Linked DNA regions of Homo sapiens. The protein of the gene in region 2 interacts with the protein of the main gene of each other region in a biochemical or structural test. Each region holds a gene or a part of one and is shown on either strand. Other genes may lie near its edges.

What was found. Proteins that work in one complex are often made in the same cells at the same time.
Region 1: the proteins of PDLIM4 (region 2) and DOCK4 interact in a test that uses a peptide from one of them, tested with the Homo sapiens proteins (one large-scale study listed by IntAct).

The regions. Positions count from the first base shown.
Region 1 is NC_000007.14:112,195,327-112,199,943, forward strand, and holds part of DOCK4 (dedicator of cytokinesis protein 4), read right to left. Parts: intron 1-4,617. UniProt on the Homo sapiens protein: Functions as a guanine nucleotide exchange factor (GEF) that promotes the exchange of GDP to GTP, converting inactive GDP-bound small GTPases into their active GTP-bound form. Involved in regulation of adherens junction between cells.
Region 2 is NC_000005.10:132,259,505-132,265,008, reverse strand, and holds part of PDLIM4 (PDZ and LIM domain protein 4), read right to left. Parts: intron 2,401-5,504; coding exon 2,249-2,400; intron 1-2,248.

The sequences.
Region 1 (4,617 bases), on a different chromosome or scaffold from region 2:
CTATGTGTGCAATTTTTTAGGAATCCTCAGATCTTAATGTTTTTCATCCAGACTACTGGAGAAAACCTCAGAGGTTTCTTCTCTCTTCATTCTTTATAGAACTGCCTGTTGATGTTTTGGGTTTTCGTATTTCTTTGAGACCCTGGCTAACCCCTGAGCCTGTTATCAAGGCAGCTTTACAAGCTCCTCAACCAACTTTGGCTACCAGAGGAGAATGGAGAACAGGTTCTCTCCTCTCCCCACAAAGTGAATAATGTTTCATCCAGGATCTCGGTTGGGGCTATTTTCGGTTGCCTTATGTACATGCATCCCCACGTTCCCAAACCTGCCTACTTCTGGTTGCCAACAACGGATGAGATTATTCCATTTTGGAGAAAAAAAAAAATAAGACATAGAACCAAATCTCCACGTTTCTGCTTAAAGACTTCAGGGAGAAATTTTTGGTTAATGTCCAATTGATAGTCTAATAAACAGCAAATTTCTTGGTTTAGGAAAATGTTTCACAACTTGGGAGATAAGTTGTTAGCAAATTCAACCAGGAAAACTTACAAATTTCATATCCAGAAGGGTTCTCACCAACCACCCTCCCACGAGGGGGCACAAATGGGGGAGGAGAACAAATACACATGTGTTAGTAGTTTCCAAAAGCCTCCCATGTAAATGTCATGCTCTCCCCTCTTCCTCACTCTCCCGTTTTCTTGAGAAACAGCCATGTTTTCGTTCATTGCTAAGTGACAGATGCCTGTCCAGATTTAGTTGCCTTCCCGCTTCCATAGAGATGCAAATGTGATCACTGATTAAGGCAACCTGGATCTCGAACCTCTCTACAACGCGAAGGACTGAGCTAAAAATAAAGGTATGGGTTCAATTCCACTTTCAGATCTGCGTTCAAGGCTAGTTGATGTGTACAGCTCCAAGCCAGGTTCCCAGTTGTAAGTTATTATATACCATGTACCACGGTTTTAGGGCAATTCAGATGAAATCATCTCTTATCCCCCTACCTCCTTCTCTGTCACCAATACCCTGCCAGAAAAACTACACTATCCAGTAAGCTTTGTTATTGCAATACTTTCAAAGCAACTACAAAATCACTGTCCTTATGAAGACCACAGTACACTTCTCAATGGTGAAGTGGCATCTTCTATAGACCCCTTTCCACCCACCTACCCACCTTCCTGTCCTGCTCGTTTCTGAGAGTGGTCATCTCTCAACAGAATTAAAAAGATGGGGTGAAAAGAGAAGGATTACAGATGCTTCCGGCAGTAAATGGCGTGCTCCAAGTTGGATGTATTGACCTGGTCTCTAAGCTGGTGACAGAGAGTGGGGAAGGGGCAATGGGTCTTCCTGTCATCTTTCCAGTCATTGAGGCCTCTCTGTTTAATAAGGGAAAGCCAAAAGAAGCCACCAATAGGTTTTTTTCTCTTTTTAATCCAGCTTTATTGAGGTATTGTTAACTAATACAAATTGTATATATTTAAGTTGTACAAACTGATGTTGATATCACCTTAAATATACACACATACATTGTGAAATGATTACCACAATCAAACTAATTAACTATCTAGCACCTCACACAGTTCCCTTTTTTTCCTGTAGTGAGAATACTTAAATCTATTCTCTTAGCAAATTTCAAGTATACATTATTGTTAACTATAATCACCACGCCGTACCACTGAAAACCAAGAAAACATTGGTTTTCTTCAACCAGTTCCACCTGCCTTAGGGAAATTTCACGTGAATTTTGCCAACAGACGTTCTGTCAGACTTAGTTTTCAGTATTATTAATGTTTGCCTCTTTCTGTGAATTTATTGTTATTTCACTGATTAGTTAGGAGAGCCTACATGAGGGGAAGGGAACCTAGTGCCATCATAAGCTAGAATTCCTTCCTTTAAGTCACTTATTTTTCAGGAGTGCCATAGTATAACTTTAAGAATTCTTGTGGTTCCTAAGAGGTATTATATATTTACCAAAAAAAAAAAAAACTGTATGTACAAATCTATTGCTTTATATATTGAAGCATTTTTCCATTTTTAGATGGGTGCGTGTTCTTAAATGCTGTTTCAGGGATGTATAAATCTTGTTCATTGAAATATTATTCGTGCACTCTGTTTTTCAACATCCTTACTGGGAAATCTCACAAACGTGCACAATCTGGCATGAAATATTTGTTTGGGAGAAGACTGTCACAGACATAGAAATAACTAATGCCTTAGCTAGGCAACGCCCTAGAGGGAAGCAAGAAAAGACTGTAAAATGTAGTTTACGACCAACTCTAAATGGACAGCTAATATTTCTTACTTGAGAATCCTTTGTACCCATATTAATAAAATGCCTCGAGATGACTGCTGTTTGAAATTTGGGGTCTGTCATGTTAAAACTTAGAATGAACAGGCAGACTATACATAATCAAAGTCAAAGCAATTAGCGAAGTCTCATTTAGACTCATTACTTCAGCCTTCACTCCTAAGCCAAATAATCTTTAATCACACTCTTCAGCACAGAACTTCTCTTTTTTGGTGCAGACTCACTTTCTACTAGACCTCATCACCTGAATGTTTTGCAGGTATCTCAAAAATTGCAGGTATCTCAAACTCAAGGTGGCCAAACAAAAATCTTCATCTTACATAAGCCTGACCTGCCTAGAAAAAAAAAAAAAAAAAAAAAGTTGGTTCTTTTGTTGAATGGCACCTGTATTCATCCAGGCACCCAAGCCAAAAACAGGAAGACATCTGCTATAAATCACGTTTATATGCCCCCAAAATTCACATATTGAAACTGTAATCCTCAATGTGATGGTATTTGGAGATGGGGGACTTGGGGAGGTAATTAGGCCATGAGGGGGAGCCTTCATGATGGGATTCGTGACCTTATAAGAAGAGATGAGAGAAAGCTTGCTTCCTTTCCTCCCCATGACCCCTTCCCCCTACCCACGTGAAGATACAGCAAGAAGATGTCCACCTGCAAACCAGGAAGAAGGCCCTCACCAGGAACTGACTCAGCCAACACCTTGATCTTGGACTTCCTAGCCTGCGGAACTGTGAGAAACAAATTTCTTTTGTTTAAACTATCCAGTCTATATTTGTTATAGTATCCTGAGCTAAGACAACATCCTAAACTCCTTCCTTACTTTAACTCCTCATATCTGATGACCAAACCTGTTGCTTTCATTTCCTAAATATCTCTCAGATCTATCCACACTTCACCATGACAATGACTGCTAACCTGATTCATGGACTTATCTCTCACCTCAGTTACTGCAGTGCCTCTCTTTACTCATTTTTATGCCACCTCTTCCTTCATAAATAACAATGTGTAATTTAAAATTCAATACTGCTCATATTTCCAAACAGATTTTTTAAAAAAGAACTTACTGATAATCTATATATTCTAACAAAAAAATTGTTCTCATCTGTGCATCGACTGCCTCTTCTCTATAGGCTACACATTTTATGTAGCTCTAATCATAGTCTATATTTACTCTTCTTTTGTCATTTAACACTAGATACCTGGAATATATTTTTGAAATAGTGTTGTTTATGAAAATATTTCATTTCATGATTGTCTGATGCTCCAACGTGCTCATAACCAAAACTGATTTAACGACTACATGGTCATGTAAGTTGTTTCACAGACAACACGGCAAGGGACAACTCTGTGCATAAAGTGTTTTGTTGCTATTGATTTATTTTGTCACATAAACTTTAAGGGGTGGGATTACTGATTCAAACTTCTGCTAACCACTGTCATACTAGGTAACATGGCGTAATGGCTAAGAGAACAGTTTCTATGCAAGACAATTTAGGTTCCAATCCTAGCTCCACCATTTACAGTATGACCTTAAATAAGTTACTTAATCCCTGTATGACTCAATTTCCTGTGAAATATGAGTGATAACTGAATCCTCCTTCATGAGGTATCATGAAGATTAAATGACAATATAAGACAAGCTCTTAGAACTGTGCTTGACATGTAGCAAGTGCTCCACAAATGCTATTTTATATTGCAGTTTCCAATAAAAGTTATATAAAAGTTTCCAAAAGGATCATGATTACCATACATTCCTCAGGGTACTGCATATCAGTTTTACTGCAGTTACGTTACCAAAGGCATTCCACTTTTTTGATGATTTTTATTTACTTAGTAGTTACCCAATGTCATCTTGGCACAATTTTTTTTAAATGCCAGAGAGTCCAAGAGTTGTTCCTGAAGTAAGTTTAAGTTGCTTAAATGAAGCTAGGCTTGGGGAACTTTAATTCCTTATTTTTTTGTCTTATATACTCTAGCCAAATAAGCATATAGTTCACTTTTTTAATAAAACAAGTTATACAAGTTGCCTTGTCTTTCTAATAATGATCAGCAACATAAAAAAAGGTACAAAAGAATAGTGAGTGGTAAACCTACAACTGGCAAAGTACCTCAGTAAACCATTATCTTTACTCTTCTGTTATAGTGACCAGAGAGTGTTGTCAAAGGACATGATACAGAAGAGTCTAATATTGGTCATTATGTAATCCTTGTCAAAAAGGTCCTGGTAGGAAGACATACAAGTACTAAAAGAGAAAACTTACGCAATGCATGTGATGGCTTTAAATATTTGTTCCATCTTTAATAAGAAA
Region 2 (5,504 bases):
TTGGATTGTTGGATGCCTGGCTTTGGGCTCAAAGCAAAAGAAGCCCAGTGGGGAAGCTGGGCCTTTGATACACTTTTCATTCTGTGGGGGAGTTGGTGGGGGGATTAGAGCTCTCTGTACACAAGAGGGCAGATAGGGAAGCTGGTCTGGGGTAGAACCCTGGGAGTGAGAGCACAGGGTAGCTCACTCCAGCCAGCTCAACAGGCTGATTTACTGCAGAGCCCTTGCTGTGTGGGTGTGTGTGGTGGGGGCGGGGAGGAGTGTCGTTGGGGGCCAGGCATAGGTCCTGGCATAGCAGGCAAGATAGGGAGCAGAGTCAGAAAGCTTGCAGGTGGGCAAGTGTCCAGGAGAAGAAATGTTGGCTCAGAAAGTCAAGGTGGCCCTCATGTCTTGATCCCCCAGAGTCTGCATGTGTGAGGGGGCTGCAGGGCAGGACTCAGGTTTTCACTCTGACTGAGCAGGCCTGGTACATCATCACTCAATGTCCAGAGCGCAAGATGGTCCATATTTTTGGTTGAGGAAGTTATGGGCTCAAGAGATTAAATCACTTTCTGGAGCACAGCATAGTTATCTCTCCCTCTCTCTCTTTTATGGGTAAAATTATGAGCATAATTCTCAACCCAGCTCTGTAATAGTAGAGAATGTGCTCTCATCTGCTCCATGGCCAGTGACATTTTGGGGCTGAAATGCTCAGAGTGGAACAGGTCAGTGGACCTCTGGCTCCATCCATGCCTGGTTTGGAACAAAGGACTGGGGAAGGAAGGAAGGAAGGAAGGAAAGAAGGAGGGGGACCTCCACCCCACCACCCTCCGCTGACATCATACACTCTGAGAAGCTCCTGACTCAGGCCCCCTCTGAGGCACTCCTCCCCACTACTCCACTACCACTAGGGCTGCCCTTGTTCAGCCACACAGAGTCAAGGCTGGAGGTGAGTCAGGGGCCAGGATCCCAGCCAAGTGGGGAAGCTTCAGAGGTCACTCATGGGCAGAGCAATGCTGACATTTCCCCCATCCAGCCTGTATCTCAGTCTGGAGGAGGGTGATGAATGTGATCCGTTAATGGGAAAGGAAACCCCGGGCTCATAGAGGTCATCTGGGCACCTAAGGCTCCAGAGGCTGGATGAGGACCAGCTTTGCTGAACTCCAAAGATGGAGCATCCTCACCGTGTGCCAGGGCCAAGCACAAACAGGGCTGACCTCACAGGCCTCTCCACCATGTTTAAAGGCTCCAAGCCAGTGGCTTACCTCCCACCCTGCCAGCTCAGAGGCATGGTTAGCTGTGTTGTGGTTTGGGGAGGCTTTGCCCACGTACTTCCACAGGGGGTCATGGAAATCCCCTCAGCAGTGAACACGGCAGAGCTGATAAGTTATGCCCGACTTCTGTGGATCAAGGTGGGCAGGGGAGTGGGGAGATCCCACTCAGCCAGGCTTAGGCCAACTGCTTCTCAGAGCTGAGTAAAGACCCAGGACCTGAGCAAGGCTGGGTCCCCCCACCCCCACCCCCAGTGGACCTTCTATCCCAGGATCATTTATGGAGCACAGATGGGCTTGGTAACCCCCTGTCCTCCCCTTCTTGATTGGCTGCAAAGCATTACACAGTCCTTAGTGGGAACTTTTCCCAAATCCAGATTTAACCAGGGCAGAGGTGTGGGCCACGGTGGCGACAGCTGTGGCAGGGCAGCTGAGGGGCTGGTAGGAGTAGTCAGCAGCCAAGTTAAGGGTCTGTAGTCTTAGGAGAGAGCCCCAAAATCAAATTTTGCTACCCCACTCCCTCTCTGTGTGACTTTAAGCACCATCTAACCTTTCTGAGCCTCACTTGTCTCATCTGTGAAGTGGGGACTATAGTAGCCCTTTTTTAAGTTGGTAAATGAGGGTTAAATGAGGTGTTGCACAAGAAACTACTTTGAAATGGTCATCAAGCTGGTCACTCAGGGGAGGGGAAAGGAATGAAACAAATGCCCCAGAGGCTATTCAAGGTCTTATTTCAGTTGCCTGCAACACTTGCCATAAGTGCCCCAACACACTTCTAGTCTAAGTTAAAAGGGGATTTCTTCCCTTCTTAAGCTATAACTCTAAACAGTATCTGCCAGGCCCCCATGAAAGTGCTACTCCTTGGGACTGTTCCTGGATGGGGCACCCAGGAGCTGAGGCAGAGAGGCTGTGTGAAGCTGGGCTCACCCAAAATGCCAGCTGCCCATAACTGCCCACCTCGTCCTTCCATCCTCCCAGCCCAGCCCACCTGTGCATACCTGCTCACAGACAGTGTGAGGTGATCGTGGCAGCCCTTGATGCGGTTCTGTGCCTCCAGGTGTGTCATGAGCTCTGTGCTCTCACCATTGATGGCCTGGATCAGGTCTCCTGGGCACAGGGCAGCCAATGCAGCCTTGCTGCCAGCATGGACCTGCGAGCAGACAAGCCAGATGGCTGGGCACAGTCATGATATGGTCTTGCTGCAAGCTGTGCCCTAGGCCTCCTCCAACCTCAGAACCTAGCCAGTGTGGCCTGCTACCAGCATGGCCTGTGGATGGGCAAGCCGAGTGGCTGGTTGAGGTCCCCATGTAGCCTGGCTGCAGCCTTGCTGGAAACACCTCCAACTCCAGCACCTGGAGGCCTGGCAGGGCATGAGGATATACGAGAAGGGCTTCCTCAGGGCTGGGACAAATGGATGTTGTTCTTGCAGCCTGCGTATGTGCCCAAGGACATGCAGGGGACACAGAGACACATGGAGACATAGGTGCTCACAGATACATACACAGCATGGACATATCACAGATACCCTACACAGACAAGGCCCCAACCAGACAGACTACACACCTTGACCTAATATTCAAACCCTTAGTGACCTTGCCTTCCTACTTGCTTGATTTCAACTCTCATCCCCACCTCCACACCCACACTCTGTCCAGACCATGTGAATGTCTATGGGGTGCTCACAGGCACCATATATCACTCACCTCTACACTTCTGCAAAAGCTGCTCCCTCCACCTGGAACATTCCTTTGACTCCCACATCCTCATCCTTCAGATCTCAGCATAGAGGCCACTTCCTCTGGGAGCCTCTCTGGGATCTCACTACCCAGTGTGCTCCCATGACCACCTTTTCCCCCTACACTGTTCATGTTAATACTTCATTATAATTAAAATGGGAAGGTCTGAACATCACCTCCCTGAGCAAGTCCAGGGCCATCCAGTTCCAGCTGACAGCCTGCGTTTGGGGGTCAGAATTCTACCTCTACTTCCCCTGCAGGACAGGAACTCAGGCTACCTCAGTGCCACTATTGACCCCTCGGGGTCAAGCAGTGTTCACACCTGGAAGCTCTTACAATGCTGGTCAACTGAAGAAGGCTAGAATGGGGGGTGGAGTTAGACTCACAGAGATATCTAAGTAAGCAACTCAGGGGAATCCAGGCCATGGAGCACCCCTCACCCTGCCTTGACCCCAACATAGCCTTTAGAAATATATTTCTTACCCAGCCTCTCCAGCCAGTGCCCAGCTGGTTCAAAAGCTGCCAGTGACCCCATTCTTTTGGGTGGGAGCTCCTACTGGTGGGAACTCCTGGAAGCCCAGCTAGGCTCAGTTCAGCCAGGTCTCAGTAGTGAGTGGACAAAGCTGAGGTGCTGGCAGCTCCTTGGCTGGAGGCCTGGTGTTGGCACTGCCCAAGCTGACCTGCCCTGAAGTAGGCTGCCTCAAGGAAACGTTCTTCTGAAGCATGACACCCTCAGCCAACTAGCCCATCATTAATGTTCACTTGTAGGGCCTGGGCACCTGTGCAAGCCTGTCATCCTGGGGGAGACACCCACTTGGCACCATCCCACCCTCCCCTCAAGGCCATCCTCTGCCTCCTCCCCTTCATGGATACCTGCCTTGTGCCAGGGCCTGGGCTCTATGCTTTACCCATAACTAGCTCACAGCAACCCCTCAACCACCTGGTGAGGCAGAGGCTGTTCTCATCCCTATTTTACAGATGAAGAGAAAGAAGCTTGGGGGAGGGATGCCATGCCCCAGTCCCCACACTGGAGAGGAGTCTTTCTTCAGGGGGCGGCTAACTGCGGCAGGATGACTCAGCCAGCACAAGGGGTACATTCAGGCTTCTGTGGGCGGAGGAAGTTTCTTGAAAGCAGTGGTGGCTGGGATGCTGCCAGCTCTATTGAGCTAGGGGAGTTCTGGTCAGAGAGGGCGTGAGGCCAAGAAATTGTGACTCTCCCAGTCACCTTTACATGCATTATCTCATTAATCCTGAAGGCAAGCCCATTTCCTAGATCAGGAAACGGAGGTCCAGAGAAGTACAGAAGGATAGTTAATTGATAAAAGACTGAATCAAGATTTCAATCCAGGCCACCTGATTCCAAATTTAAAACTATGCTCTTAACACCTGCATTTTTCTTCCAAAGGGGGTAAGGGAAAAGAGAGTATCTGAGGGAGAGATAGTGTTCCAGGCAGAAGGACCAGCATGTATAATGGCATATCTGGAGAGAAAGAAGAAGGAAGGTTGTATGGCCGGAGCATCATGAGTGAGGGGAGAGTGGGAGAGATGAAGTCAGAGAAGAGGCAGGGATCAGATATTGCAGAGTCTTGTACACCCGGGTGGGAAGCTGGCATTTCTCCTGGGTGGCTGGGAACCATGGAGGGCTCTAAGCGGGAAGTCACAGGACAGAGTGGAATTCAGGCCGATCCGTCTAGCTCCTAAGCACAGGATAAACAGAAAGAAGGAACAGAGACAGGAACAGTGAAGTCAGGTGGGCGGTGAGGGCATGAATCAGCCCCTTACCGGTAGTGGCTGCATTCCCAGCCCCTGCTCCACCCAGCCTAGATGTGGTGGGCTGGGAGTCCAAGTCAGAACCAGGTGCCACATTGTCCTACACAGTCACAGCAAACTGCAGACTGCCTGGATTCCTCCTGTCTCCACTCTGCTTCTCTAGGTTGATTACATTAGCCTCTCTGTGCCTGGGTCTCCATCTATGTAAGGCCAGAGGGAGTCCTTACTTCTAAAGGCTGTTGTAAGGACTATTTGAGAAAAACAGGGCATGTAAAGCCCCCACAGGAGGCTGGGCATAAATAAGGTGGTGCTCACTACAGGGACTGGAGGGAGCTGTTACCAACACCCATTAGGGTAGGGCCTGGCACACCCTGGATGCTTGGCCAAGGCCAGCCATCATTATAGCTTGTGGGGAAGGAGCCCCGGATGATGTTCTTGGGACTCCTGGAGGCTTCATGGGCTGAGATTGCAAGCCCCCAGCCCTGCCGGGCCGATAGCCTCCTCCCTGTCTGTGTGAGGCTGTCCCTCCCTACCAGGTCCCGCGTAGGGGAGGTCCTGGAAGCAAGGGAGGGGCTGGATCTTGAGCCCCACTGGTGAAGACACTCCCACATATCTTCAGTCCCTGTAGACCTGCCCCAGAGGTACCTGCTAGGCAAGCTGTGGCCTGTGCCTCCCCAGCGCTGTAAATCTCCCCAGATCCCACCCAAACCCAACCTCAGCCATCCTGGCTCCTTGGGCCTGAGCTGCT